2 separate regions of the Homo sapiens genome follow, and region 1 is linked to region 2. The links come from fine-mapping of genetic effects on gene expression. Tissue or cell type: whole blood. Region 2 holds a variant in brackets; the other region holds the start of a gene. All regions are shown on one strand. Distances are between the middles of the regions.

What was found.
Region 1: it holds the start of TNFRSF9, and the variant in region 2 is fine-mapped to the expression of TNFRSF9 in whole blood (INTERVAL, PIP above 0.99).

What each region holds. Positions count from the first base shown.
Region 1 is chr1:7,937,649-7,951,285 of GRCh38, forward strand. It overlaps TNFRSF9 (TNF receptor superfamily member 9), which reads right to left and starts at 3,191. Exons shown (of 8, transcript NM_001561.6): 1 at 3,136-3,191; 2 at 2,247-2,430; 3 at 1,073-1,180; 4 at 545-682; 5 at 42-108. The coding sequence starts at 2,346. RefSeq lists a silencer at 4,895-5,034.
Region 2 is chr1:7,965,808-7,980,480 of GRCh38, forward strand. It overlaps PARK7 (Parkinsonism associated deglycase), which reads left to right. Exons shown (of 7, transcript NM_007262.5): 4 at 3,538-3,597; 5 at 5,087-5,156; 6 at 11,845-11,931. Among named protein-coding and RNA genes, the nearest start is that of PARK7, 11 kb to the left of the region's middle. The variant G/A (reference allele first, on the strand shown) is at 4,989.

The sequences.
Region 1 (13,637 bases), 29 kb before region 2:
CCAGATTCTTTATTCCATAAACTAAAGGAAATTATACGTACTTTGTCCAGGGTCGACAGATGCCACGTTTCTGATCGTTAAATGTCCCAAAGCAACAGTCTTTACAACCTTGTATTAAAAATGAAAGCAATAATAAAAGGGAAGCATTTTCATCATTTTGTAACTTTTCCTGTGATGAACTTAATATAAGTCATTACCATAATGCAATCTGCACAAATTGTTCAATAATTCTTGAAACAACACCCTAAGATGGCTAGTTTTTATTTTAATTGTACATAAAGTATTGTATATGTCTGGAACATGTGAAGATTAATGGTTCTGGCAATTAACAAATGTTCTGATTTCAAATTATTTCCATTTATGAAGAAATAACGGAAATATTTTATTAATTGAAATATTTTATTAATTAAAATATGATATATCATATACTCCCTTGTTACTTTAAGGTTCTACAAATCTGTTTGTTTATTTTCAAAGGATCAAGATCAAAGCTAAGTTTGTCTATGTCACAAAACTACACTAGATCAAAGAAACGCAAACGTACCTTTTTTTGTCAGTTCTTGACCTTGTTTACAATCCTGTTCACACATGCTGCATCCTGCCCCCAGGCAGTGAAACCCTGGAGTGCAGTCACACTCTGCATTGCTGGTGGAGGAACACTCCTTCCTGGTCCTGAAAACACCTACAAAGTCCCCCCAGCCCCCAACATTTTATTACACTTGACCTCCAAATCCAGGAAGCGAATTTATGCTCTGCAGTAAAAATCATGCTCACTCTACTTATAGTGTTCCCAGTAATTTTAAAGTTTACTTTTAAATCTCCATAAAGACATTTTTACATTTAGGTAAGTAAAAACTTCTCTCTTGTCAAATGAATGTTTCCTCTAATATTTAGAAAGCTCAGTCCACAAATAATTGCTGTCACTGGATATTATTGTCCTAGACCTGCTGGTTGGCAGAAGAATCAGTCTTTGACACTTGAGATTTTCAAAAGAGAGCAGTTAGTAAATGGGAAAGAAAAGCTTATCTTCCCAACTATCTTCTAGAAGAAGAAAATATCTTTGAACTCATACCTTTACACTGCCTGCATATGTCACAGGTCCTTTGTCCACCTGCGCTGGAGAAACTATTTGGAGGACAGGGACTGCAAATCTGATTCCTGTTATTATCACAGAATGTACCTAAGAAAGGCAGACAATAGTGGTACACGTTTGACAATGGGCAATCGTCACCCAAGGCATTCCGAAGTTTACAATAAAATAAGATTATAAAAGAATGATGAGTTTTCTAGATGCCACAGTGGTGGACATTAGTTTGATTGACTTCCTAAAACAATACATTTGCAAGATTATTCTTTGTGTAATCACAGAATTAGAAATAACAAAATACAGGCCAGGTGCAGTGGCTCACGCCTGTAATCACAGCACTTTGGGAGGCCGAAGCGGGCAGATCACCTGAGGTCAGCAGTTCAAGACCAGCTTGGCCAACATGGTGAAATCCTGTCTCTACTAAAAATACAAAAATTAGCCAGGCGCAGTGGTGCACACCTGTAATCCCAGCTACTCGGGAGGCTGAGGCAGGAGAATTGCTTGAACCTGGGAGGCCAAGGTTGCAGTGAGCTGAGATCGTGCCACTGCACTCCAGCCTGGGCGACAGAGTGAGACTGTGTCTCAAAAAAAAAAAAAAAAACATACACACACAAAAAAAACAAAAAAACCAGATATTGTAACAAATAAATCAACAGAAAGAAAATACTTTATCTATTGAATAAAACAAAATGATTATCTTGATTGATGTAGGAGATGAATATGACTGGATCCAGGAGGACATCAATGTCCTACACTAAAATTTAAATGCGACTGACCGTCCCCACTCTGTTAAGCCCTTTACTACGCGCTTACTCGCTGCTATGCCCCCAGTCGGAGCACAAAGCCCTACACACAAAACTAACATTTATTGAAGTCTTGCCTTGTGCCATGCACTGTTCTAAGCCCTTCATTTGATCCTCCCAGCCATCCTATAAAACAGGTTCTCTTATTATCCCCAGATGAGAAAGTCAAGGCACAAGAGGTTGAATGACTTTGCTGTGTTCACACAGCTAGGTTGTAGCATCCAATAAACATTTGTAAATGAATGAATTTTCATTTTCCTTTCCTTAAAAGGGAGCTCGTTAGCCCTGACTACTAGACTAACTGAACCATACTTCCAACAGAGCAGATCAAATGCACATGATAACTGGGTACTCACCAGCTGGGCAGTTACTACAAGGATCCTGCAATGATCTTGTCCTCTCAAAGTTGAGGACCAGCAACAGAGTGGCTACTATGTTGTAACAGCTGTTTCCCATGATGAAATCTGGCACAGGTATGATACTAGCAAAGCTGATTCCAAGAGAATTTTAATCAAATTAGCTGGTCTCACAAATGTCACTCTGCAAAAGATAAACATTTCCAAGGAAAGGTGGTTTCTCCTTTCAAAATTATCTATATTGCAATCATTACTTATACAATTCTATAAGAGGATAACTCAGGGTTTTTCAGGAACAATTAATGATGCAATATTACGGAAAAGTAGCAGATTCATAGAAACCACTAGGACAAGGCAGGCGTGATTAAACACACAGCTTTGTGCCGGTTTGCCAAAGTTTGAGGGTGCATTTTCCATCATGTTCTGCCAAAATGCAGAAATAACAATAGCAAGAACTTTTGGGGACTTTCATAGGTACTTTGCAGTACCAACCAGCAATAATGCCAATTACTTATTGCCCCTGAAATAAACTCCTTACAAAGAGAATCTGTCAGGGGCATCAGACAATTCAGTTCAAGAAGAAGCTATCACATAATCACTCTTCCCCCTTTAGCTGAACACCTAACTACTAACATGTGGAAAGACCTCCCTGTTCAACTCACTAACACATTTTCTTAAACAGAGACATGTTTTGAGATGTGAAGTTTGTATGGTAACAAAACTAAGGAGTGAAAAACTCTTCAGGCTAAGTTATTGATGTTTATTTAAAGGGCTATTGAAGAGAAGTTATTACATATTAGGAGAAAAAGTCTAGAAATGGGCAAAGGGAGCAAAAGTTCCAATCTCACCCCTTCTCAGTGCCCCCACCCACTCCCCCAGATGGACAGACCTTGAGATCTCAGGGCTGCCGGAGAACTTTCCACTCCTTGGTCTTCAGGCTTCTGCAGCTCGAGAGGACTTCAGGTCAAACACAGGAGTGCGGTGACTCAGCCAGGGGCGGGGTCTCATGGGAAATTCCCACCACAGCTCTGTGACAGCCCTATGAAATCATTCATTTCATATCTGCTGACCCCGAAATCCCCTAGAGCCCCCGTCCCTGCCTGATAATGGCACTTCAAATTGCTTCTTGGAAGCAGCTCTCTACTGTCAGGATGTGTCACAGATGACGCTGGGAAAACGATTTTGTCCCTTAAGATAGCTCTCCAGGACAAAGCATTTAGCATGTCCTTAAAACACTGGATTTGAGATTAGAGGAATGAAACCAAATTCAAAACAGTGATCAGCATTTTGCCATATGCGGTCCCCTAACTCCATAGTCACTGTAATGCAATAGCTGCCATTACTTGAGCACAGCCGATGTGCCAGGCATCAGAGATGCACTGCGGTGAATACACACTATCCTCGAAAGAACCCTAGAACTTGGTATGACTGCTGTTGTTACTGGGAGAACACTATGCAAATGAGGAAAGTGGGGCTGCAAGTGGAATTAGAGCGTCAACAGGACAGGGAGCAGGCAGGGTTGGAACCCAGGTCGGCCTGGTCCCTTATCGTGCTCCTCCGGGCATGGGTGACAGAGGGAGGAAGGAGGGAGAAATGGAGGGAAATGGAAACAGGGGAAGCACAGCAGTCACACGGCAAGTCAATGACCAGGACGTGGTTCGGTGAAGCTGAGAGCTAGGAGGGATTTTTAGAAAACCATGATTTCAATTTTTCTTTAAAAAAAAAAAAAGGAGAAAGAGACCAGGCGCGGTGACTCATGCCTGTAATCCCAACACTTGGGAGGCCGAGGTGGATGGATCATCTGAGGTCAGGAGTTTGACACTAGACTGTCCAACATGGCAAAAACCTGTCTCTACTAAAATTACAAAAATTAGCAGGGAATGGTGGCGGTGGACCCCTTTAATCCCAGCTACTGAGGCTGAGGCAGGAGAATCGCTTGAACCTGGGAAGTAGAGGTTGCAGTGAGCCGAGATTGCGCCACTGCACTCCAGCCACAAAAAAAAAAAAAAAAAGAAGAAGAAGAAGAAGAAGAGGAAGAGGAGGGCAGAGAAAGCAGAAGGAAAAAAAAGTACAGTAAGAGGAGAGGAGGAGTATAAGGAGAAAGAAGAGGGAGAAGAGGAGGAGGAGGAGAAAAATAAAGAGAAAAGGAGGAGGAGGAGGAAGAAGAAAAGAACAGAAAGAGAAGGGGAAGAGGAAGAGGAGAAGGAAGAATGAGGAGGAGAAAGAATGAGACGGAAGAATGAGGAGAAGGAAGAGTGAGGAGGAGAAAGAATGAGAAGGAAGAATGAGGAGAAGGAAAAAGGGGTGTTTCTGGAGGAGGAGGAGGAGGAGGAGGAGGAGGAGGAGGCGGCTGCTCCAGGCTGTAGATGAACCTGCCCATCATTGAGCAGCTGGAGAACCTCAGGAAAACCAGGGGAACTGTGGCTGGGGCAGGCGTGGGCTGGGGAAGGACATCGAGAGTAGCTTGGGCCGTCCTCCTGCCCCGCGGTTCCCAGCACGAGCTCTCCCGACAGAAGAGGAAAACGCGGCGCGACTCGGTTGGGGGACAGCGCTGAGATGCGGACAGATGCGGACGTTCTGCCGCCGCCTGCAGGCAGAGGGACTCGGAGATCAGGCCGCAGAAGCAGAAGAAGGCAGACGGGAAGGAGGAGGAAGGAAAGGAGCCTTGTGGCTTCGTGTCCGACCCTCCCGCCCTTGGCCCGCGTGCCTGGAGCCAGCCCCACCGCGCCCGCGTTTCCTCCCGCGGGACTTCCCTTGGCCCTGGGTCTGCAGCGGGTCCTGCCGAGCTTCCTTCCCTCAGGCAGCCTCTCTCTCCCTGGCCACTCTCGGGGGTGAGGGGGGTTACCGGTTCCCAGTGATTTTTATTCCCTTTGCTCTCTCACGCCTCATGTTCCCCATTCTCCTGCCTCAGTTGTGTAATCTTGAGCAAATTTCTCAACCTCCCTAACTCTGTTTTTGCAAGCACATCTTACAGGTGCAGTGACACCATACATCTTCCTCGTGAGTGAGGATTAAATGAGACGATGAGCATGAAATACTTAGCTCAATGCTTGGCACATAGTTCTCAAGAAAGTAGGAATTGCTATGATCAGACTTACTGGTTTGAAATGTTCCTTCCCTGCCTCCCACACTGACCATCAGTAGAGCCACCACAGGGCAAGTCATGACAGAAAAGGAGAAAAACGCATGAGCTGCCTGCAAAATGTGTTCCCAAATACTGACGGTCATCTGAGAGTTATCTTACCTGTGACATCTGTGGGATCCCTCCTTGCCCCACTTTGGCAGAAATTGGCTGAATGTGAGAGTGTCACACCATAAAAATCGGACTGCTGATCCCCTCCTAACACTTTGAAAGTCACCATCTAACCAAGTAATCTCCTTGTTTACATGTGGTACTCTGTTTAACATTGCAGTGTGACATTTAACTGGGCCATATTTCATTTAACTAAATGCTACTCACTAGTCTACGTTTTGGACATTCTGTAGGCAGAGACATTACTTCCTCTGAAAGTGACATATTTAGTTTCCCAGCACAGTAATTAGCTCACTATTTCAGGCTTTTATGCCAGTAACATAAGAGTCTTTACTGAGCTAAAAGAGTCTCAACATTAGTTTTGCCAGCCCACAGTTAAACAAAGTCAACCACTTCAGAATTCTGCTACTGAAGGCTATGCTCAACTTTACTCAGGCGTTTAAAAAATTCATGGCTGGGAACAGTGGCTCACACCTGTAATCTCAGCACTTAGGGAGGCTGAGGCAGGAGGATCGCTTGAGCCCAAGAGTTCAAGATGACCTGGACAAGATGCCCAGACCCTGTCTCTACAAAAAATACAAAAATTAGCTGGGTGTGGTGGCATGTGCCTGTGGTTCTAACTACTTGGGAGGCTGGGATGGGAGGATTGCTTGAGCCTGGGAGGTCGAGGTTGCAGTCAGCCATGTTTGCACCTGTGCACTCCAGCCTGAGCAACAAAACTAGACTGTCTCAAAAAAAAAAAAAAAAAGAATTCATGTTACTGCATGCATTTTTGTGTGGTATAAAATCATCGTAGTAAGCTAAGTCAAATTATATAGTTAACCAGATATACATACTATCTAAGCTAGCCAAAGGTGTAATACTCTTTTGGTATAATTTTCATTTGCTTTATAACATGTATCATATTGCTTTATCCATTGTAGCCCTGTAATCTTTCAAATGCAACAAAAGCTTTTTCTATTCCATAAAACCATCTCAAACTAAATCAGAGATGACCCCGACAAGACAGCAACACTTTAGCAGTATTAATAATATTAATAATATGTTTCATCCATCCTAAGCAGTATTAATAATCTGTTTCATCACATCCTAAGCATCTCATTCTAAACCAAGAAATAGGCCGGGTGCAGTGGCTCATGCCTATAATCCCAGCACTTTGGGAGGCTGAGGTGGGAGGATCACAAGGTCAGGAGATCGAGACCATCCTGGCTAACATGGTGAAACCCCATCTCTACTAAAAATACAAAAAAAAATTAGCAAGGCGTTGTGGCAGGTGCCTGTAGTCCCAGCTACTCTGGAGGCTGAGGCAGGAGAATGGCGTGAACCCGGGACACGGAGCTTGCAGTGAGCCCAGATCGTGCCACTGCACTCCAGCCTGGGCGACAGGGCGAGACTCCATCTCAAAAAAATAAATAAATAAATAAAATAAAAAAAAAATAAATAAATAAATAAACCAAGAAATAGATTTTATTTCATTTTGATTGACTATAGGTCTAATCTTGAATATCTCAAGCAGCTAAATACTTTGAGGCTAAATAGCATGAAGGCCCAACAATTCTAAACAGGATAAAGGAGACATTTAGAAAGAGAAAGCCCTCAAAATAAGCTTCCTATAAAATATTCTTCCGCCCTTCCAGGGCGCATCTTAGAGGGAATCTCTTCCGTGGGATATTCACTGTTTACACTTGTTTTCTGCCTGAAAGATCTATTCTTTCAAGATTCAGTGTCGCCACCCCTACTCCAAACACCCAAACTAGTAGTCACTATTAGACATACCTGGTGCTTGTGATGTCAGTAGGTGTTCTGAGGCCTGGGAAGGAGTAAATTGTTTTTAAACTTGGAACAAAGAAAATGAGCAGGAAATCAAAGAGGAAGGAGGCAGAGTAAGGAGAAGGAAGTACGAATCATAAGGAGAGGCGGGTGTCAGCAGCCATCGACTTTGCTCACCTTTCCTCCTTGTTCTGCCCTTTCTCCAGGTGGCATCCACTCATATGCTAAGGCTTATCAATAGTTGTCTCCAACTTCAGACCACCCCCAACACTGTGCAGTCCCCAGGACAAGAGTACAAACAGAGGCCTGCTTACCATGTGTCCAAATATTTAGAAATTGTTCATCAATCCAAATACGCTGTTAAGTATGTTCTGTCCAGAGCAGAGACACAAACACACAAACACAATGAACACAGAGCTGCGTCTGTGACTGGGTGTCTGGCGCACGGTGCTGGCATAGGGATGCATTAACTCGGCTCCATCTGCTCTCTGGACCCACACTGCCAGGCCTGGGTGAAGACTCCCCCACATCCCTGGATCCATGTCCTTGAAACTCCATTTGAGGGTGACACCGTGCTGTGAGAGTTGTGAGCTGTGCTGTTGCCTCCAAGAACGGCAGGGAGGGTGTGAGCCATAGAAGTACCAGGCAGACAAAAGGCAAGTAGATTTGTCAAATCCATCTCAGATACCAAGGGTGTAACAGATTCTTGTATAATCTATTATTATGCAAGAATATCACAGACAGTGGTATTTCCCTACAGTCCCAAGTATCCTTTTTTTTTTTTTTTTTGAGACAGGGTCTCACTCTGTCACCCAGGCTGTAGTGCAGTGGTGCAATCTTGGCTCACTGCAGCTTCTGCCTCCAGGGTTCAAGGGATTCTTCTGCCTCAGCCTCCCGAGTAACTGGGACTACAGGTGCGCACCACCTTGCCCAGCTAAGTTTTATATTTTTTTGTAGAAAGGGGTTTTGCCATGTTGCTCAGGCTGGTTATCCACTTGCTTGATCCAATTTATGGCCCACTTGGTGGTTTTGGAAGTTCTTGTATATTGCCATGGAATTCACAGCAGTTATGCACAAAGTCTGAGGAAGACTTTGTAATATTAAACAATTCATATTATTCTTGAATATGCACATATGTAATATGTAGAATAAGAACTGCAGCATTAATTCTTTACTAGAATCACCTAGGACTGAGACCCAGAATGACAATTTCAATTTTTATAAAAATATTTAAAACAATTTAAATTTCAAAAGATTAAAAATCTCAGTTCTTTAATAAAAATAAGTTTTAAATATTTGATATTTATCCACTATAATTTGTTTTTAATTCTAATACTTTTGGAACTTTTAGAAAAATGAAAAAACGAATGTAAAAACAAATTTAAAATTTTACATACTCAAATTCACACATTATATTAAATACATACAAATGCTGTATATGTTAAGTACAATTATATTTTATTTCTTAATCCTTTAAGTCATTACTGTCCAAACACAAATTATGCGAAATTATCTATTGTAACAAATGAAATGAAAGCAAAAAAATAAATTTTCTAGATAAAAATACAATTATTTATGAACTATGTGTGTCTTTTTTTTTTTTTGAGACGAAGTCTCGCTGTGTCACCCAGGCTGGAGTGCAGTGGTGTGATCTCGGCTCACTGCAACCTCTGCCTCCTGGGTTCAAGCGATTCTCCCCACTCAGCCTCCCAAGTAGCTGGGACTGCAGGTGTGTGCCACCACACCCGGCTAATTTTTGTATTTTTAGTAGAGACGGGGTTTCACCGCATTGGCCAGGATGGTCTCAAACTCCTGAACTCAGGTGATCTGCCTGCCTCGGCCTCCCAAAGTGCTGGGCTTACAGGCGTGAGTCACCATGCCCGGCCCTGTATGCCTTTATTTACCACTAATTTAAACATTTTCAGGTCATCAGAAAACATCTACACATTTGTAATGTTAGTTAAACTCAGTCATCTTTGCCAACTTTGTTACATAAAAATAATTTGTTATTTAGTTACTTTGAAGACTTCTCTGTGAAGTAGAATATTCTCCTTGCGCTTGATTTGCCACTTTTAAATATTCAGACATGGTGTGTGGGCCCCATTTCTATACTTGCTCCAGGCCCCAAAAGTGTTAGAGACAGCGCTGAGAGACACACAGTTGGTAGTCAATAAACCTTTATCAAATGAACAAATAAATACATGGATTTGTTCACTCCAGTCCTGCGGTCTGCCTGTCTCTTCATGACCTAATGTTTTAATTTCACTCTCTTCCTGGGGAAATCATTCTGGCATGCAGACCCCAACCTGAGCTGTCATTGTCCTTTCTCAGGTCTCATGTAAAATGCTTTTCTGATCACGGCTGACACTGGCCGAGGGCTTACTATGCGCAAGGCACTGTTCTATGTATTTACAGAAGTTCCCACAATTATACCTTAGGACAGCCTTTGTCCCTGTTTCACAGGTGAGGAAACAAGGGCACAGAGAAGCCAGGTAGCCTGCCTGGTGTCACCTGGCTAGTAAGGAGCCGAGAAAGGATTAGAAACTCGGCTGTCTGGCTGCAGAGCCCATGCTCTTAACCAGACTCTTAACCTGCCTGTGCCCAAGGCCCCATTCGCTTGTGGGTCCTATGCTTGTGGAGCCCTCAGAATAGGATTCGTAATTCATAAAATATATTACAAAGGATTACAAAGGAAACCAACTGAATTGAAATGTCCCTGCCAAATATTTTAAAAGCCAATTTGTGATGCACTAATATATGGACTTAACATGTATCTGGCATAATTTCAAATTAATCATGAATCAAAATGGTATTCTGGGATATCTGCAAGAACTGTAATGTGATATGAAGATGACTTTCAGTACTATTGGTCCCAAGCCATGAGTACTGTTCCTTCAGCTATGCTTTGTGAATTACTATATTCCAAATGGGAAGAAATGTTAGGTTTAGATTTCCATTAGAGGTTAGTGAAACTAAAGATGTAATTTAAATCTAAGTTCACAGACTCCCTGATTTTTATCTGTGCACCTTTGAGCATCTGTGGACCTCAGGGTCACAACCCCTGTATGAAGTCTCCTTGCTGTCGCTCATGCGCTTAAACAGTTTGAGCTCTGGGAACTTGCTCTTACTCCAAGAGCAAGCTTCACTTTGATTATTTCTCCAGATGCTGTCATTGTATCTTAAGGCAAAAACTCTATGTCATTTCTGTCCCTCACCATCCTCACCAAGATGGCACATGTTTATGGTGTATCACATTCTGTGGTCCATTCCTCTGGTCCCTTCAACGCTGAATTTAAACAGATTGCGACTACCACTAAATAAATGTTTTCTAATAACAAGAGCTAATACTTATGGGTGGCTTCCTGCATTGCAGATGTTATGCTAAACACTTTAAATGTTTTATTTAGTCTCAGAAGACAGATTTTGTTCCTTCTGAAGAGGCTAAATAAAATATTTAAAGTGTTGAGCATAGGCCGGGTGCGGTGGCTCATCCCTGTAATCCCAGCACTTTAGGAGGCCGAGGTGGGCGGATCACCTGAGGTCAGGCATTTGAGACCAGCCTGGCCAACATGGTGAAATCCCGTCTCTACTAAAAATACCAAAATTAGCTGGGCATGGTGGCGTGTGCCTGTAGTCCCAGCTGCTTGGGAGGCTGAGGTGGGAGAATCACTTGAACCTGGGAAGTGGAGGTTACAGTGAGCCGAGATCACACCACTGCCCCTTAGCCTGGGCAACAGAGTGAGACTCTGTCTCACAGATGCACACAAAAAAAGTGTTGAGCATAACATCTGCAATGCAGGAACTCCATGAGGTAAGAATTATTGTTACTATTCTAATGTGAAGAAACAGAAGCCAAGGGAGTTCAATTCCTGAGACAAGGATTAAGGGCAGCATTTGAGGGTTTACTCCAGGCCAGTGTTCTAGCTTTACCTATATTCATTCATTTAATTCTCATAGTGACCCTGTGAAGTACACAGGTTCTGTGATCCCTGTTTTATAGATGGGGAACATGAGGCATGAGGGGTAACTCATTTGTTCAAGATCACTTAGCTAGCATGGGACAGAGCTGGGCTTAAATCCAGACAGGCTGGACTCAGAGAGCGAGAACAGGCTCTCCCACCACACCATACTGCCACATTTAAGGAATGGAGACACCAGGGATGGAATTGGACGCTGTCTCATTCCAAAGCTACCTTAACATCTGGCCAAGAGGTATGACTAACATAGGAGCTAGCTGTAATGGCACATTCCTGTGAATTAGTAAAAAGATGTGTTGACTCAGCAACCAAGGGTAAGACTGTCAATTCCGTGGTTTAAGAGCTGAGTTGGAAACCACATCAGAGCTCGTCTACATGAATGACTACCAAGAAACTGACGATCAATTTAAACTTTGAGAAATGTGATGAAGAGCAGAATTGACAGCCTCATAGTAGTCAATTTTTGGAGGAAGTTAGACTAGCTTAAAATAAGAGCACGTAATCAAAAACCATTAAGTAAACACGGGCTCTTTATTTTTAAATTCGGATGGCGAGAGATAGTTGCTACATGCCGTTAAAGGGAAAACTAGTCTTTGGGGTGCAGGTGACAACTGTGATCAAAGCAGTATCACCCCAAGAGGCAACATTATCCTGAAGTAACATAACTTTGTACCGAAGGCCAGCTTCTGGCTGTGGGGTACTAGCTCCCCGTCCCTAGCGTTCACCTTAACCCTTGGGAAGGAAAGTACTATTAAAATTAAGTAATATACAAATTCATCTCAACTACTGTCAATTAACATTCTAGTGTCCTTATTCAACAAATCAAAAGCAAGGCAACACCAGGAGATGGATTTTGTTTCCTTCTGAGCTTTTTAATGGTGATCAGCATTTTCTACCAAATAATTCCACTCACAAGTCGTTCTCCACAAAATCCGTCTCCTGTTCTTCTGTGTTTCCATTATAATGGAAGATTGTTGGATAAACCATTAGTTTTCATAAGATTTTTTTTCTTCAGTTAAGTATCACCATACTAAATAAGTATCACCACACAAAATAAGAGTTCCAACTGTCCCTGTGTGTAAGTTATAACTACTCCATATATATGCCTATAGGGTCTGTTGCACTCAACCTCAAGCAATTTCCAAGTTTCATTATTATTATCATTAGATTACTCTCTGTCCCTTATCAATTCAGTAAATTTAACTCAACAAGCATTTATCGAATGTCTAATGCAAATCTGCACATTTTCTAACCCATTTACTTCTCCTGTTTTGCATCCTACCACTCCCCTCTAGCCTGACTTGTTTTCAATTTTTAAATTTTTATTTATTTTTGAGATGGAGTCTTGCTCTGTCGCCCAGGCTGGAGTGCAGTGGCACCATCTCGGCTCATTGCAACCTCCGCCTCCTGGGTTCAAGCGATTCTCCCACCTCAGCCTCCCGAGTAGCTGGGATTACAGGCACCTGCCATCATGCCCGGCTAATTTTTGTATTTTTAGTAGAGATGGGGTTTCACCTTGTTGGCCAGGCTGGTCTGGAACTCCTGACCTCAGGTGATCCGCACACCTCGGCCTCTCAAAGTGCTGGGATTACAGGTGGGAGCCACTGCACCCGGCCACTCCCTCATCTTATTTGGGTTTTCTCCTCAGAAAACAGCATTCTTTGACCAGTGTCTAAACGAGCACCCTCCCCCCACCATTATTCTCCATCTTCTCTCCCTCCTTTGTTTTCCTTCATAGTACATACCACCACCTGGCATGCTATTTATTTGTGCTTTTGTTTACTGTCTGTCGTTTCCCCATGGAACATAAGCTCCATGAGAGGGGACACTGTTCACTGCTGCATCCCTGGCACCCCAGAGCACTCCTGAGAACACACAACAAGCCCTCCATAAATAATTGTGGAGTGAGTTTTATTGTCTTGTATGGCATATATAGATAAAGTGCCATCCCAACAGTTTTCCCAGCCTTGAGTGGAAGGAAGAGGTTACACAAATAACTAAGGCCACACAGCCGTACAGATTCTATAATAGGAGGGCAAAGTGCTACGGGAATAGAGAAAGTTTCCTGGAGGGATTGGCAGTGTAACTGGGTTTTCCAGGATGGGTAATACATTGAAAGGCTGATAAAGGCCGGGTTCGGTGGCTCACGCCTGTAATCCCAGCACTTTGGGAGGCTGAGGCAGGTGGATCATGAGGTCAGGAGTTCAAGACCAGCCTGGCCAACATGGTGAAACCTTGTCTCTACCAAAAATACAAAAATTAGCCGGGCATGGTGGTGGGCGCCTGTAATCCCAGCTACTCAGGAGGCTGGGGCAAAGAATTGCTTGAACCCGGGAGGCAGTGGTTGCAGTGAGCCGAGATCGAGCCACTGCATTCCAGCATGGGCGACAA
Region 2 (14,673 bases):
ATTATTATTATTTTTGTTTAGAGGAATGGTCCCACTCTCTCCCCTAGGCTGGAGTCCAGTGGTGCAGTCACAGCTCACTGCAGCCTCAACCTCCCAGGTTCAAGCAATCCTCCCACCTCAACCCCCCACGTAGCTCGGACTACAGGCATGTGCCATGCCCGGCCATTATTTTTTCTAAAGATACTTTCAGAGTTCCACTGTAGTTGTGTTGTTTTTTCAGTATCGTTGGAATTATGGCTCTTACCTTTAAGGACGATGGACACTTTTGGAAGCTAGCATCCCTTTCCTCAGAAACATGCTCCCCCACAGGCGCTTTTGCACACTCCGTCGTGCGGTCAGCGTGACAGGAGTGTGGACTGTACCCTCTGACAGCAGGGTCATGGCAGGAAAGGAGGCAGAGTCGGCTCACAGATGGCTGGTTGCACACTGCTGAGGAACCTGGAGTGCGGTTCCCTGGGCCGAGCTGTCCTCAGATACATAGGAAAAAGTTTAATCCTTTCTAATAAGTTTAGATTTTTCATTACTGGATTGTAGAAAATTAGACTGTTGGTATTTACATGTGATTTGTTGAAACAAATTAAAAATGACAAGCAGAAGTAAGTATTCCAGGCCAAGTGCAGTGGCTCACCTGTAATCCCAGCACTTTTGGAGGCCAAAGTGGGAGGATCACTTGGGACCAGGAGTTTGAGACCAGCCTGGGCAACATAGCGAGACCGTTTCTCTTTAAATTAAAAATTTGTAAAAGCCAGGTGTGGTGGTGCATGCCTGTAGTTCTAGCTACTTAAGAGGCTGAGGCAAGAGGATCACTTGAGCCTAGACGGTTGCTTGAGCCCAGGAATTTGAGACAGCAGTGAACTGTGATTGTGCCATTGCCCTTCAGCCTGGGTGACAGAGCGAGACCCTGTCTCAAAAATAATAATAATACTTTTTTTCATCTCTGTTTGTGTTTTTGTCATATGATGTCTGGGCATTTTAAAACAGTGGTTACCTTTATTTTCAATCGACAGATAATAAGTGTACATATTCATGGGATTTGTGATGTTTCCATGCATAATATATAGTGATCGGATCAGAGTAATTAGCATATCCATCATCTCAAACATTTCTTTGTGTTGGGAACGTTCAATATCCTCCTTGCTATTTGAAACTATATATGATTGTTAACTATAGTCATTCTACGGGGGTATAGAACACCAGAACCTATTCCTCCTATCTAGCTATAATTTTGTATCTTTTAACAAATCTCTCCCTATCCCCACTTTCTCCTATCCTCCCCAGCCTCTAGTATCCTCTGTCCTACATTATGCTTCTATGTGATCAATTTTTTTTTAGCTTTCACATATGAGTGAGAACATGGAGTGTTTAATTTGCTATTCCTGGCTTCTTTCACTTAATATAATGTTCTCTAGTTCCATTCTTGTAGCCACAAATGACAAGATTTCATTCTTTTTTATGGCTGGATAGTATCCCATTGTGTATAAATGCCACATTTTCTTTATGCATTCATCTGTTGTTGGACCTAGGTTGATTTCGTATGTTGGCTAGTGTGACTGTTGGTGTAGTAAACAAGGGAGTGCAGGTGTCTCTTCAGTATACTGATTTCCTTTCCATTGGATACATGCCAAGTAGTGGGATTGCTGGACCATATGGTAGTTCCATTTACTGTAGTTTTTTAAGGAAGTGGTTACCTTTTGTGTGTTTTTATTTTTCAGTGCAGATTCTAAAAGGAGTAAAATAAATTCTATACTTTACACATTTTCTTTTGAGTTTTGAGCTTTGCTTGGTTTTGAATCAACGGTAGGATGTTTATGGTCTTAAAAGTGATTCTAAGCCAGCCATAGTGGTTCACACCTGAAATCCTAGCACTTTGTGAGGCTGAGGCAGGAGGATTACCTGAGCCCAGGAGTTTTGAGACTAGCCTGGGCAATGAAGCGAGACCCTGTCTCTACAAAAATAAAAAAAATTAGCTGGCTGTGGTGGTGCATGCCTGTAGTCCTAGCTCCTGCAGAGGCTGAAGTGGGAGAGTTGCTTGAGCCCAGGAGTTCAAGGCTGTAGTGAGCCACGATTGCATCACTGCACTCTAGCCTGGGTGACAGAGGTGAGGGCTTCTCTCTAAAAAAATTTTATAGGTTGCACTAAATACATAATACATTTTTATTTTGTAATTTGTTTAATGACTAGATTTTTTTTAACCACTTTTTAAAGTACTAAAGTATTGTTGGCCGGCCACAGTGGTTCACGCCTGTAATCCCAGCACTTTGGGAGGCCGAGATGGGTGTATCACGAGGTCAGGAGTTTGAGACCAGCCTGGTCAAGAGGGTGAAACCCCATCTTTACTAAAAATACACAGATTAGCCGGGCACAGTGGTGGGTACCTGTAATCCCAGTTGCTTGGGAGGCTGAGGCAGGAGAATCGCTTGAATCCGGGAGACGGAAGTTGCAGTGAGCTGAGATCACTGCACTCTAACCTGGGTGACAGAGCAAGACTCTGTCTCAAAAAAAAAAAAAAAAGAAAAGAAAAATAAATAAATAAATAAAAAGTCCTAAAGTATTGTTAAAACAATTTCCGTTTTGTAATTTCAGGAAGTTTGAAATTAATTTGATTTCTAGGATTTTTTGGGGGGGATACTAAAATTCTCCCCCCGTTACATTTTTCATAAAGTTAAGAAAAATTTTTTGTGCCTTTTACTTAAAATTTGTTTCTCTATTAATTTTATTTGTTTTTTTAGACAGAGTCTTGCTCTGTTGCCCAGGCTAGAGTGCGGTGGTGCAGCCTCAGCTCACTGCAGCCTCTGCCTCCTAGGTTCAAGCGATTCTCCTGCCTCAACCCCCCAAGTAGATGGGACCACAGGTGTGCACCACCACACCCAGCTAATTTTCATATTTTTAGTAGAAATGGGGGTTTTGCCATGTTGGCCAGGCTGGTCTCGAACTCCTGAGCTCAGGTAATCTTCCTGCCTTGGCCTCCCAAAGTGCTGGGATTACAGACATGAGCCAGTGTGCCCAGCCTGTTTTTCTATTAATTTTTTAAGTTGTTCATGTACATTCTTGTTGAACAATAATTCAAACAATATAGACACATATAAAGTCAAAATGTTAAATGTCCTGTTCTCATTCTCCCTCTGCCCCATCCCACACTACTCCCATTAGCAACTAGAGTGTCTTCCTTTGTCTGTGACTACCTGTATACAGAATATGTGGGGTGGGGTGCTTGTGGTGATTGTACACATACACGCATACATCTACACACAAATACATATATCCTTGTCTTTTACAGGAAGGAGATTATACTACCCCTGCTACTCTGCAGCGTGGACATCCTTGCATGTCACTACATACAGGTTTTCTGCATTTTTTGCTAGTTAAAACACCATTCCGTCATGTGGATACACCTTAATTTATTTAACTGTTCTATTGGCAGATAGGCTATCTCCTGTACTTCCCACATTTAAAATAGGAAAGTATTATTGGACTGTCAATTTAATGCACAGTTGAAATGAAATGTTTTTGTTTTCTTTATGTTTTAAACTGTTACAGGGACCATATGATGTGGTGGTTCTACCAGGAGGTAATCTGGGCGCACAGAATTTATCTGAGGTAAAAAATTCTACTCAATTATACCTCAATAAAGCTGGGGGGGGGGAAAAACTAAAGAATTTCAGCATCTGCTTATGTTCTGTTAATTTTGTTATTATTCAAATATTTCGGGAGGAGGCTGTGAAAAAAAAATAGAAACAACTAAAATTAACAAAATGGTGTTATAGCATTAACTCAAACTTTTTTTTTTTTTTGAGACAGAGTCTTGCTCTGTGGCCCAGGCTGGAGTGCAGTGGCACAATCTCGGCTCACTGCAATCTCCGCCTCCTGGGTTCAAGCAGTTCTCCTGCCTCAGCCTCTGAGTAGCTGGGATTGCAGGCATGCACCCCCATGCCCTGCTAATTTTTATATTTTTATTAGAGACGGGGTTTCACCATGTTGGCCAGTCTGGTCTCAAACTCCTGACCTCGTGATCCGCCCACCTCGGCCTCCCAAAGTGCTGGAATTATAGGCGTGAGCCACCACTCCCGACCTCAAGAAAACATTTTTAATATTTTCTATGGAGGTCAGGTGCAGTGGCTCAACGTCTATAATCCCAGTGGTTTGGGAGGCTGAGACAGGAGGATTGCTTGAGGCCAGGAGTTTGAGACCAGCCTAAGTAACACATCGAGACGCCATCTCTACAAAAAATTTTCTTTTAATTAGCTGGGCACGGTGGTGCACACTTGTAGTCCCAGCTACTCGGGAGGCTATGGTGGGAGGATGACTTGAGGCCAGGGATTTGAGGCTGCAGTGAGCTGTGAATGCACCACTGCATTCTAGCCTGGGCAACAAAGCAAGAACCTGTCTTATCAGAAAAAAAAAATGTTGCCATGGAAGTAAGCTGAATTGGTGGGACCGTTATGAACAGATGTCGATGAATACAGTCCAAAGTAAGATGATTTGGTTTTTTTCCACCAGCAGAAGAATGATCAGATTTTGTGTTTTGAGAAGGGCAAATTGTCTACTCAAAGTCTTAACTGGGGGAAGCTGTGGGGCTAGGGCTGCCAGCAGGAATGGCAAATGCCATCAGCAGAGACCATTGTTCCTCATTTTAAGTCGTATGTGAGGAGTCAGAGGCCAGGGTGAGGGGCACACCTGCAGGCAGAGTTGGGGCTGCCAGAAGTAAGAAGTGGGTTGTGTCAGACACAAGGGATCTTTTCCTGCTAGATTCTGTTCCTCTCTCTGCCATCTGAAAACACCCAAAACACCACATTCCCTCCCATTTCTTTCTCCCTGGAGTACAAAATGGCAAGGGTCAAATTGCTTCTTCTGATCTTTAAATGTGGAAGAGTGCGTTTCTCTTATGAGAAATGCCTTGCTTGGGTTTAAGAATATAATATAGACACATTTTGATCATTTTTATACCAATGATTTAGAAATATTGTTGGAAAATAGGTCAGAGAGCTTGT[G/A]GTTTAAACTAAAATTAAATTCTTCCAAAGTTTCCTAGTGAGTGATTGGTTAGTGGCTTAATGATAACTTTATGTATTTTTGGTTTTCTTTTCACTAGTCTGCTGCTGTGAAGGAGATACTGAAGGAGCAGGAAAACCGGAAGGGCCTGATAGCCGCCATCTGTGCAGGTGACGTGCAGGGGCAGCCTGTGTTGCAGCGTCATTGGTGGGTGGGGTAGCCTTTCATTCGATGGTTTGATTCCAAATAGCTCTTCCCCTTCATAAAGCATGCAGGGCATCTGTGTTGGTGTATTTAGTTTGGGTGGCATGAAGTTGGTGTCATTTCAGAGATGAGGACAATTGTTCTGTTTTCTGCCTCTCCATGCCTTTGGTCTACATGCTGTGAAACTTAGTGTTTTCCGTGTTTGGTTGACCTCGGAGGAAAATAAGGCCCTCTGGAATTCAGTAAACAGCTTGTTACAGCAAGTCTCTGTGCCAGAAAGTCTTTGTGCCAGCACACAATCAGCAAAATCCATCAAACATCAACACAGCAGCTCTGTCCTGTGCTTGCCCTGCAAATTCAGAAGCCCCCATGGTGCTTTCCGCTGGCTTCTCGGGCGTTTCTGATTGTCTCAGTACCGAGTGATCTTGGGCACCGCATTATCTGCCACATAATTTAGAACAAGGACATTTGGTGCTTCGCAGATGTCCTCTTCTCTTTGTACCTTAGTAATATTTTATTTTCTCATAACCATTTTAAGATCCATTCTTGTTGCTTTCCTATCAGATGATGTTCTGCCATTTTGGTTTTTTCCCATGCTGTAATTTTTGCCAGCACCTTCCTTGTTGTATAGGTCTTCATTAAATATTTGTCAGGGCCGGGCGCAGTGGCTCACGCCTGTAATCCCAGCACTTTGGGAGGCTGAGGCGGGCAGATCACCTGAGGTCAGGAGTTCAAGACCAGCCTGGCCACCATGGTGAAACCCCATCTCTACTAAAAATACAGAAATTAGCCAGGCGTGGTGGCGGGCGCCTGTAATCCCAGCTACTCGGGAGGCTGAGGCAGGAGAATCGCTTGAACCCGGGAGGCGGAGGTTGCAGTGAGCCGAGATTGTGCCGTTGCACTCCAGCCTGGGGGACACGAGCGAGACTTCGTCTCAAAAAAAAAATAAAATAAAATAAAATAAATATTTGTCAGAAGAGTGAATGAATAAACGAATGAATGAGTGGATGGTTTGGTAAACATCAACATCAAAACATGTTGCTGTTGCTATTTTGTTCAATACAGTAGGCTTTTCAAAAGAAGTTATGGGCCAGAGGTCCTGGGGACTTGATACATTCGAGTATCAGTGGTTCTCAATGTTCTTTTGGTGCACTTGCAAGGTCAAAGCAGATGCTACTGAGGGGCCAGGTGTGGTGGCTCATGCCTGTAATCTCAGCATTTTGGGAGGCCAAGGCAGAAGGATCTCTTGAAAGCCAGGAGTTTGAGACTAACCTTGGCAACATAGCCAGACCCCCATCTCAACAAACAAACAAACAAAAAATTAGCCAAGCACAGTACTGCATGCATGTAGTCCCAGCTACTCAGGAGGCTGAGATGGGAGGATCGCTTGAAGGCAAGAGTTAGAGGCTGCAGTGAGCTATGATTGCACTCCAGCCTGGGCAGCAGAGTGACACCATGTCTTTCAAACAAAATGTTATTCGCCTTTTTTCTTCTCAGTCTTTCAGGAGTGACATCAGAGTAGGATGATACCATCATCTGAGAATTTATTATTGTGTTTTAAAAATTTCCCAGTTTTATTAGGTTGATGTAAAAGTAATTGTGGTTTTTGCCATTAAAAGTAATTGGCGTGGCACAGTGGCGCATGCCTGTAATCTCAGCACTTTGGGAAGCTGAGGTGGGCAGATCGTTTGAGGTCAGGAGTTCAAAACCAGCCTGGCAAACGTGGTGAAATCCCGTTTCTACTAAAAATACAAAAGTTAGCTGGGCATGGTGGTGCACGCCTGTAATCCCAGCTACTCGGGAGGCTGAGGTGGGAGGATCACTTGAGGTCAGGAGTTCGAAACCAGCCTGGCTAACATGGTGAAACCCCGTCTCTACTAAAAATACAAAAGTTAGCTGGGCAGTTAGCTGGGTATGGTGATGCATTCCTGTAATCCCAGCTATCAGGAGGCTGAGGCAGGAGAATCTATTGAACCCGGGCGGCGGAGGTTGCAGTGAGCCGCGATTACGCCACTGCACTCCAGCCTGGGTGACACAGCAAGACTGTCTCAAAAAAAAGTAATAATTTTTAATATGGCAGATGTTCATAGATATAACCCACATAAAAGCTAAAGGGATTCTAAGACCTAAATGTTTGAGAACCGTGGCATTAGGGGCTGGGAAGAACCACAGAGGTTGACCACCCTGGCAGGTCTTGTACGTGGGCTTACTACAAGAGTCACCACTAGCCTTTTGACCTGCCCTGAGGCTCAGGTAATTATCTCTGCCAAAGGGCACTGCAGTCACTGCAGCCCAAGCAGCTGCTCCCCTCTTTGGAGAGAAAGTCACAGATCCTTGAGTTTGGTTTTCTTTGGCTCTGCTGCTGTGAAGCAAGCCTCAGTCCTAGATTCTTTGACCAAAGGAAGAAAGAGTTTGGGCTGAGTTTGTTTCCTTATGATTCTGCTGAAAGTAAAAACCACATGTCAGTTTGTCCTGTGCCACAAAAGTAGCAAAATCACTTAAGGTCAGGAGTTCGAAACCAGCCTGGCCACCATGGTGAAACCCCATCTCTACTAAAAATACAGAAATTAGCCAGGCGTGGTGGCGCGTGCCTGTAATCCCAGCTGCTTGGGAGGCTGAGGCAGGAGAATCGCTTGAACCTGGGAAGTGGAGGTTGCAGTGAGCCAAGATTGCGCCATTGCACTCCAGCCTGGGCAACAAGAGTGAAACTCCGTCTCAAAAAATAAATAAAATAAAATAATAAAAATAAAAATAACAAAAATTAGCAGGGCATGGTGGCGCATGCCTGTCGTCCTAGCTACTTGGGAGGCTGAGGCAGGAGAATCGCTTGAACCCGGGAGGCGGAGATTGCAGTGAGCCGAGATCGTGCCACTGCACTCCAGCCTGAGCGACAGAGCAAGACTTCGTTTCAAAAAAAAAAAAAAAAAATCAACCACATTTGGCTTACTGTTTTGTGCTGAGGCTAGATGGAATGCCATGCTAAGAAGCATGGGCCTTATAGTACTTTAAATCAACATTAAAAAATAAACAGGCTGGCTGTGGTGGCTCATAGCTGTAATCCTAGCACTTTGGGAGACTGAGGTGGGAGGATCACTTGAACCCAGGAGTTCAAGACCAGCCTGGGCAACATAGTGAGACCCCCCCACCGACCTCTACAAAAAAATATTTTAAAAAATCAGCCTGGTGTGGTGGTGCACACTTGTAGTCCCAGCTACTCAGGAGGCTGAGGTGGGAGGATCACTTTGAGCCCAGGAATTTGAGGTTACATTGAGATGTGGTGATCACACCACTGCACTTGAGCCTAAAGGACAGAGCAAGACTTGGTCTCTTAAAAAAAAAAAGTAAAAATAGGCCAAGGGCGGTGGCTCACACCTGTAATCCCAGCACTTTGGGAGGCCGAGGCGTGCGGATCACAAGGTCAGGAGATCGAGACCATCCTGGCTAACACGGTGAAACCCTGTCTCTCCTAAAAATACAAAAAATTAGCCAGGCGTGGTGGCGGGTGCCTGTAGTCCCAGCTACTCGGGAGGCTGAGGCAGGAGAATGGTGTGAACCTGGGGGGCAGAGCTTGCAGTGAGCCGAGATTGCGCCACTGCTCTCCAGCCTGGGCGACAGAGTGAGACTCCATCTCAAAAAAAAAAAAATTATATAAAAAACAGTAAAAATAGAAAACACACTAGCAGTGTGTTTATACCATTGAATATCCTGCACCACTGTTGTGGGCACTACACCAGAAATAGGAAAAAATGTGATGATGAGCTGAGCTAATTGAGATGAGGGTTATGGGAATGGAACAGAGGAGTGATGGAAGAGATTTGGATCTTTTAAATTGGCAAACAGAAAAATAAGATTCTTTTTTTTTTTTTTTTTTGTTGAAATGGGAGCTTTGCTCTTGTTGCCCAAGCTGGAGTGCAGTGGTGCAATTTCGGCTCACTGCAACCTCCACCTCCCAGGTTCAAGCGATTCTCCTGCCTCAGGCTCCCGAGTAGCTAGAATTACAGGCACCTGCCACCATGCCCAGCTAATTTTTGTATTTTTGGTAGAGACGGGGTTTCACCATGTTAGCCAGGCTGGTCTCGAACTCCTGATCTCGTGATCCGCCCACCTTGGCCTCCCAAAGTGCTAGGATTACAGGCGTGAGCCACCGCACCCAGCCAAGATTATTCTGAAGTGTTGCAGTTAGGGATTGGAAACATTTTGAACACAAAGAATATTAGCCTAGTCCTTAATATTGAGTGAATGAGGAACGCAAATTGGAAGGGAGTCTATGTTGAGAAGAAAATTAAATGATATTTACTTTGAGTAGGGGAGGGGGAGGAAGTGTGGAGTTGGAGGAGTGGACAGTTGTCAGCTGAGATGCCCAGGTCTAGGAATGAGGCCTCTGGAAGCAAGGTCTTGGCCACCTGGAGGAGCTGGGGAGTTGGCAGAGGTGGTCATTTTGCATGTTACCACAGGGTGGTGCTGTTGGCTGCAGAAGGGGACATGGTCAGCTGCGCCCTCTGCACTGTAGTGCAGAGTACAGAGCGTTTTCATCCATCAGAATCCCAGGTCCTGGGAGAGTGAAACGTCTCTTCTCCAGTATTCCAAATAGGGTTCTGACGCCCCAGAAAGCAGTGATTATGAGCTTACCTGATAAGTATGAAAGACATCAGTAAATTCCTGAATCCAACTGTAACATAAATTTATTCACATCGTAGCAGTGATTTTATTACCACCTTGAAGGGAGCAGCCTAAAAATTCTCGTTCACCGATCACTTTCCTCACTGTGCTATCATCTATTAAAGTTTACTTTAAAATGCAAGATGATGTAGGAATTTCTTCTTAAATTCTTACCAAATAAAAATTAAAAACAATTTATAAATCCATTCAAATAAAAATTGATAATTATTCAATTCTTACGGACTTCTAAAATTTGCTACCATACATAGCTGTCTTGTGTGTAAAAATAACGTGGAGAAGAGACATTTGAGGCTTTTGATTTAAGAGCTATAAATCAGGACTTGGTCTGAAACTGACAGCTGATATTAGGCAGAAAGCTTATGTAATTAGGTAGTATTTGTGTGATCTTCCTGTTTGTAACAGCTACGGTCTGAGTAGCTTGTGGGTATATTATATAATTCCTTCCTTGGAGTCTTGTTGAAAAATGAAAGGACAGTAAGACCAAGACCTCTCAGGTTTGCTGACACTAAAAGTGTACAAACTGTGCCACAGGATCTTAGCCATCCAGGGCACCTTAAGTGTTTCCAAGATCAAGGTGCTGTTCTGAAACGTATCCTTCTAAGTGTCATGTGAGGCCTTAGAAAGAATGTTTATATGTGTGGCTTAGAGGAAAAAGGTAGAATGAATACTTTGTAAAAAGCTTTAAGATGAAATAACAATGAAAGGTATATAAAATCTTTGTTTTTAATCCTTATTTAGGACCATTACATACGCAATATGCTTGTGACCCTCCCTGAAGTTGGCCGTTTTCAGTGAATACATTTAAATAAAAATCTCAAGTTAGGACCTGCCAATTTGGAAAGACTTCATCAACTGACACTTCCATGTGGTTCTTTGCTTAAGTAGCTTTCATCACGTGATGCTAGTGCCTTTATATCTCACACTTCCAGGCACTTCACAGGCTATCTCCTTCAAGGACAGTGTGCTGTCCATTTTAATCCTACCACCTGGCATACTTGGGTGGATAGGTGGATGAACGAGTGTTAATTTCCCATTTTATTTATTTATTTTTTATTTATTTTGAGACAGAGTCTCGCTCTGTCGCCCAGGCTGGAGTGCAGTGGCACGATCTTGGCTCACTGAAAGCTCTGCCTCCCGGGTTCACCCCATTCTCCTGCCTCAGCCTCCCGAGTAGCTGGGACTACAGGCGCCCGCCACCACGCACAGCTAATTTTTTGTATTTTTAGTAGAGACAGGGTTCCAGCGTGTTAGCCAGGATGGTCTTGATCTCCTGACCTCATGATCCAGCCGCCTTGGCCTCCCAAAGTGCTGGGAATACAGGCATGAGCCACCGTGCCCGGCCTAATTTCCCATTTTCAAGTAGAAAATAAGATTACAAAAGAGCAATAAAATCCAGAAGTTCAGAGAGTACCAGTTGCCTTTAGCATGTAACTAAATCTTTCCTTTTACTAAGAGTGAGGTAAGAAGTTGAGCCCGCCCCAGTGATCCTCCCCCTCCTTTGGACTCCTGGTATATGTGGTCCCTGTTCTGGGGATGGGGAAGGTGAGAGAGGTGAGCACATTTTGTTTATCTGTGTATGCTCTGCTGGTATCAAGGTAAATCTTCTTGAGTAAATGGTTATTGAAGTATTTTGAGTTTCTGTGCTTTTGCCAGATGTGCTCAGCAAATCGTTTGTTATAAACATACTTTATCTCTCATACTAGGAAGTGTTTCATTTCAGAATCGTAGCTGTATGTTTGGTAAGAGCCTCTTGATTTTGAAGAATACTTTGCTGTTGCAGTTTTTGTTGTTGTTAGAGAAGGGGTCTGTGTTGCCCAGGCTGATGTTGAATTCCTGGGCTCAAGCAATTTTTCTACCTAGGCCTCCCCAATTGCTGGGATTACAGGCATGAGCCACTGTGCCAGGCACTATTGCGATTTTTTAAACATGGGCTTTTCTATATCTGCACTTAGATCTTTTTATTTTTATTCTTAGGTCCTACTGCTCTGTTGGCTCATGAAATAGGTTTTGGAAGTAAAGTTACAACACACCCTCTTGCTAAAGACAAAATGATGAATGGAGGTAAGTATATGCTTGTTTTTGTTTGTTTGTTTGTTTTTTGAGATGGAGTCTCGCTCCATCGCCCAGGCTGGAGTGCAGTGGCGTGATCTTGGCTTACTGCAATCCCTGCCTCCCGGGTTCAAGCGATTCTTCTCTCTCAGCCTCCTGAGTAGCTGGGATTACAGGCGCATGCCATCACACCCAGCTAATTTTTGTATTTTTAGTAGAGATGGAGTTTCACCATGTTGGTCAGGCTGGTCTCAAACTCTTTTTTTTTTTTTTTTTTTTTTTTTTTTTGAGACAGAGTCTCGCTCTGTTGCCCAGGCTGGAGTGCCATGGTGCGTTCTCTGCTCACTGCAACTTCCGCCTCCCGGGTTCAAGTGATTCTTCTGCCTCAGCCTCCTGAGTAGCTGGGATCACAGGTGTGCTCCACCACGCCTGGCTAATTTTTGTATTTTTTAGTAGAGATGGGGTTTCTCCATGTTGGTCATGCTGGTCTTGAACTTCTGACCTTGTGATCCACCCGCCTCAGCCTCTGAAAGTGCTGGGATTACAGGCATGAGCCACCGCGCCCAGTCTCGAACTCTTGACCTTGTGATCTGCCTGCCTCAGCCTCCCAGAGTGCTGGGATTACAGGTGTTAGCCACCGCGCCTGGCCCATATGCCTGTGTGTGGTTTTTTTTTTTTTTTTGAGATGGAGTCTCTCGCTCTGTTGCCCAGGCTGGAATGCAGTGGTGTGATCTCAGCTCACTGCAACCTCCGCCTCCCGGGTTCAAGGGACTCTCCTGTCTCAGCCTCCCGAGTAGCTGGGATTACAGGCATGTGCCACCACAAGTTTCTTGTAGACTGGGCACAGTGGCTTCCGCCTGTAATCCCAGTACTTTGGGAGGCTGAGGCGGGTGGATCGCTTGAGCCCCGAGTTCGAGACCAGCCTGGGCAACATGGTTAAACTCCATCTCTACTAAAAATACAAAAAACATTAGCCAGGCATGGTGATGCACACTGGTAGTTGCAGCTGCTCAGGAGGCTGAGGTGGGATGATCGCTTTAAGCCTGGGAGGTCAAAGCTATGGTGAGCTGTGATCTCGCCACTGAACTCCAGCCTGGAGGACAAAGCAAGACCCTATCAAAAAAAAAAAAAAAAAAAAGTTTCTTGTGTACCTGTAGAATTTTATCTATCACATACTCATTATCCTTTTTATTTTAACTAAAATGAGATCTACTAAATGTATTGTTCTGCAGCTTGCTTTTTTTAACTTAATGTTAATATCTTATGTTATCTTTTAACAGCACATGTAGATTTAGATTTGCTTCATCCTTGTTAAGTACAGCTGCTAGTCCAGTGTTGGAATGTGCCATGCTGTATGTAACCTTCTCCTGGGGGTGGGCATGAAGGTGGTTTTCTGCTTTTGCCCTTGTAAACCATGCCATAATGATCATCCTTGAATGCCGCTGTGAGCATATCTGAGCTCCACTTTAAAAGTGATGCACTTTTCATTATACTGCATGTTTTTTAATTACTAAACTTTAGTTTTTTAGAGCAGTTTTAGGTTCACAGCCAAATTCCCGTCTACCTTGACCCACTCGCCACTCCCCAGGCCCCCGCCCCTGGCCATGCATAGCCTCCCCTACTATCAACATCCTGCACCAGAATCTGTACCCACATTGACACATCATCATCCAGAGTCCACAGTTTACATGAGGGTTCTCTCTTGCTGTTGTACATTCTACATACAGTTACATTTGATCCAGAGCAGTGTTTTCCTGAAAATCCATGGTTTGTTTATTTATTTAATGTATTTGAGACAGAGGCTTGCTCTGTCACCCAGGCAGGAGTGCAGTGGTGTGATCTCAGTTCATTGTAACCTCCACCTCTTGGGATCAGGCAATCCTCTCACCTCAGCCTCCCGAGTAGCTGGAACTATGGGTATGAGCCACCACACTTGGCTAATTTTTAAATTTTTTTGTAGAGACAGGGTCTAACCATATTGCACAGTCTGGTCTTGAACTCCTGGCCTCAAGCGATCCTTCTGGCTTGGCCTCCCAAAGTACTAGGATTACAGATGTGAGCCACTGTGCCCCGCTCATGGTTTTATTTTAGTTGCTAGAAAGATACTATGTTATCATTAAAACGATCTGTTTGAAAATTGGTACTTTTTGCTGGATGCAGTGACTCACGCCTGTAATCCCAGCACTTGGGGAGGCCGGTGGGGGAGGTAGATCACGAGGTCAGGAGATCGAGACCATCCTGGCTAACACGGTGAAACCCCGTCTCTACTAAATGTACTAAAAAAATTAGCTGGGCGTGGTGGCGGGCACCTGTAGTCCCAGCTACTCAGGAGGCTGAGGCAGGAGAGTGGCGTGAACCCAAGAGGTGGAGCTTGCAGTGAGCTGAGATCGTGCCACTGCACTCCAGCCTGGGCAACAGAGTGAGACTCCATCTCAAAAAAAAAAAAAAAAATTGGTACTTTTTAATAAAAGTCTCTGGTTTCTGGGCATTTTAAATGTAGGAATTTAATTTACTTTAAGCTCATGGAGGGATTTTAGAGCGTTGAAAGAAATGGAAAGAACAGAACTGGGCTCCCTTTGTGATGTCTTCAGAGGGAAGACAAGCGGAGCGCGCTCCTGCACTACCTGAAGGTGTGCCTGTTGCATCTGTTTTCCTTTAGTGCCTCAAAAACATTGAGGTTGGTCAGGCATAGAAAAAGATCAGATTGTTGATGCTCACACTTGGAGTTTACAAAGCACGTTCCCGTACGTTATC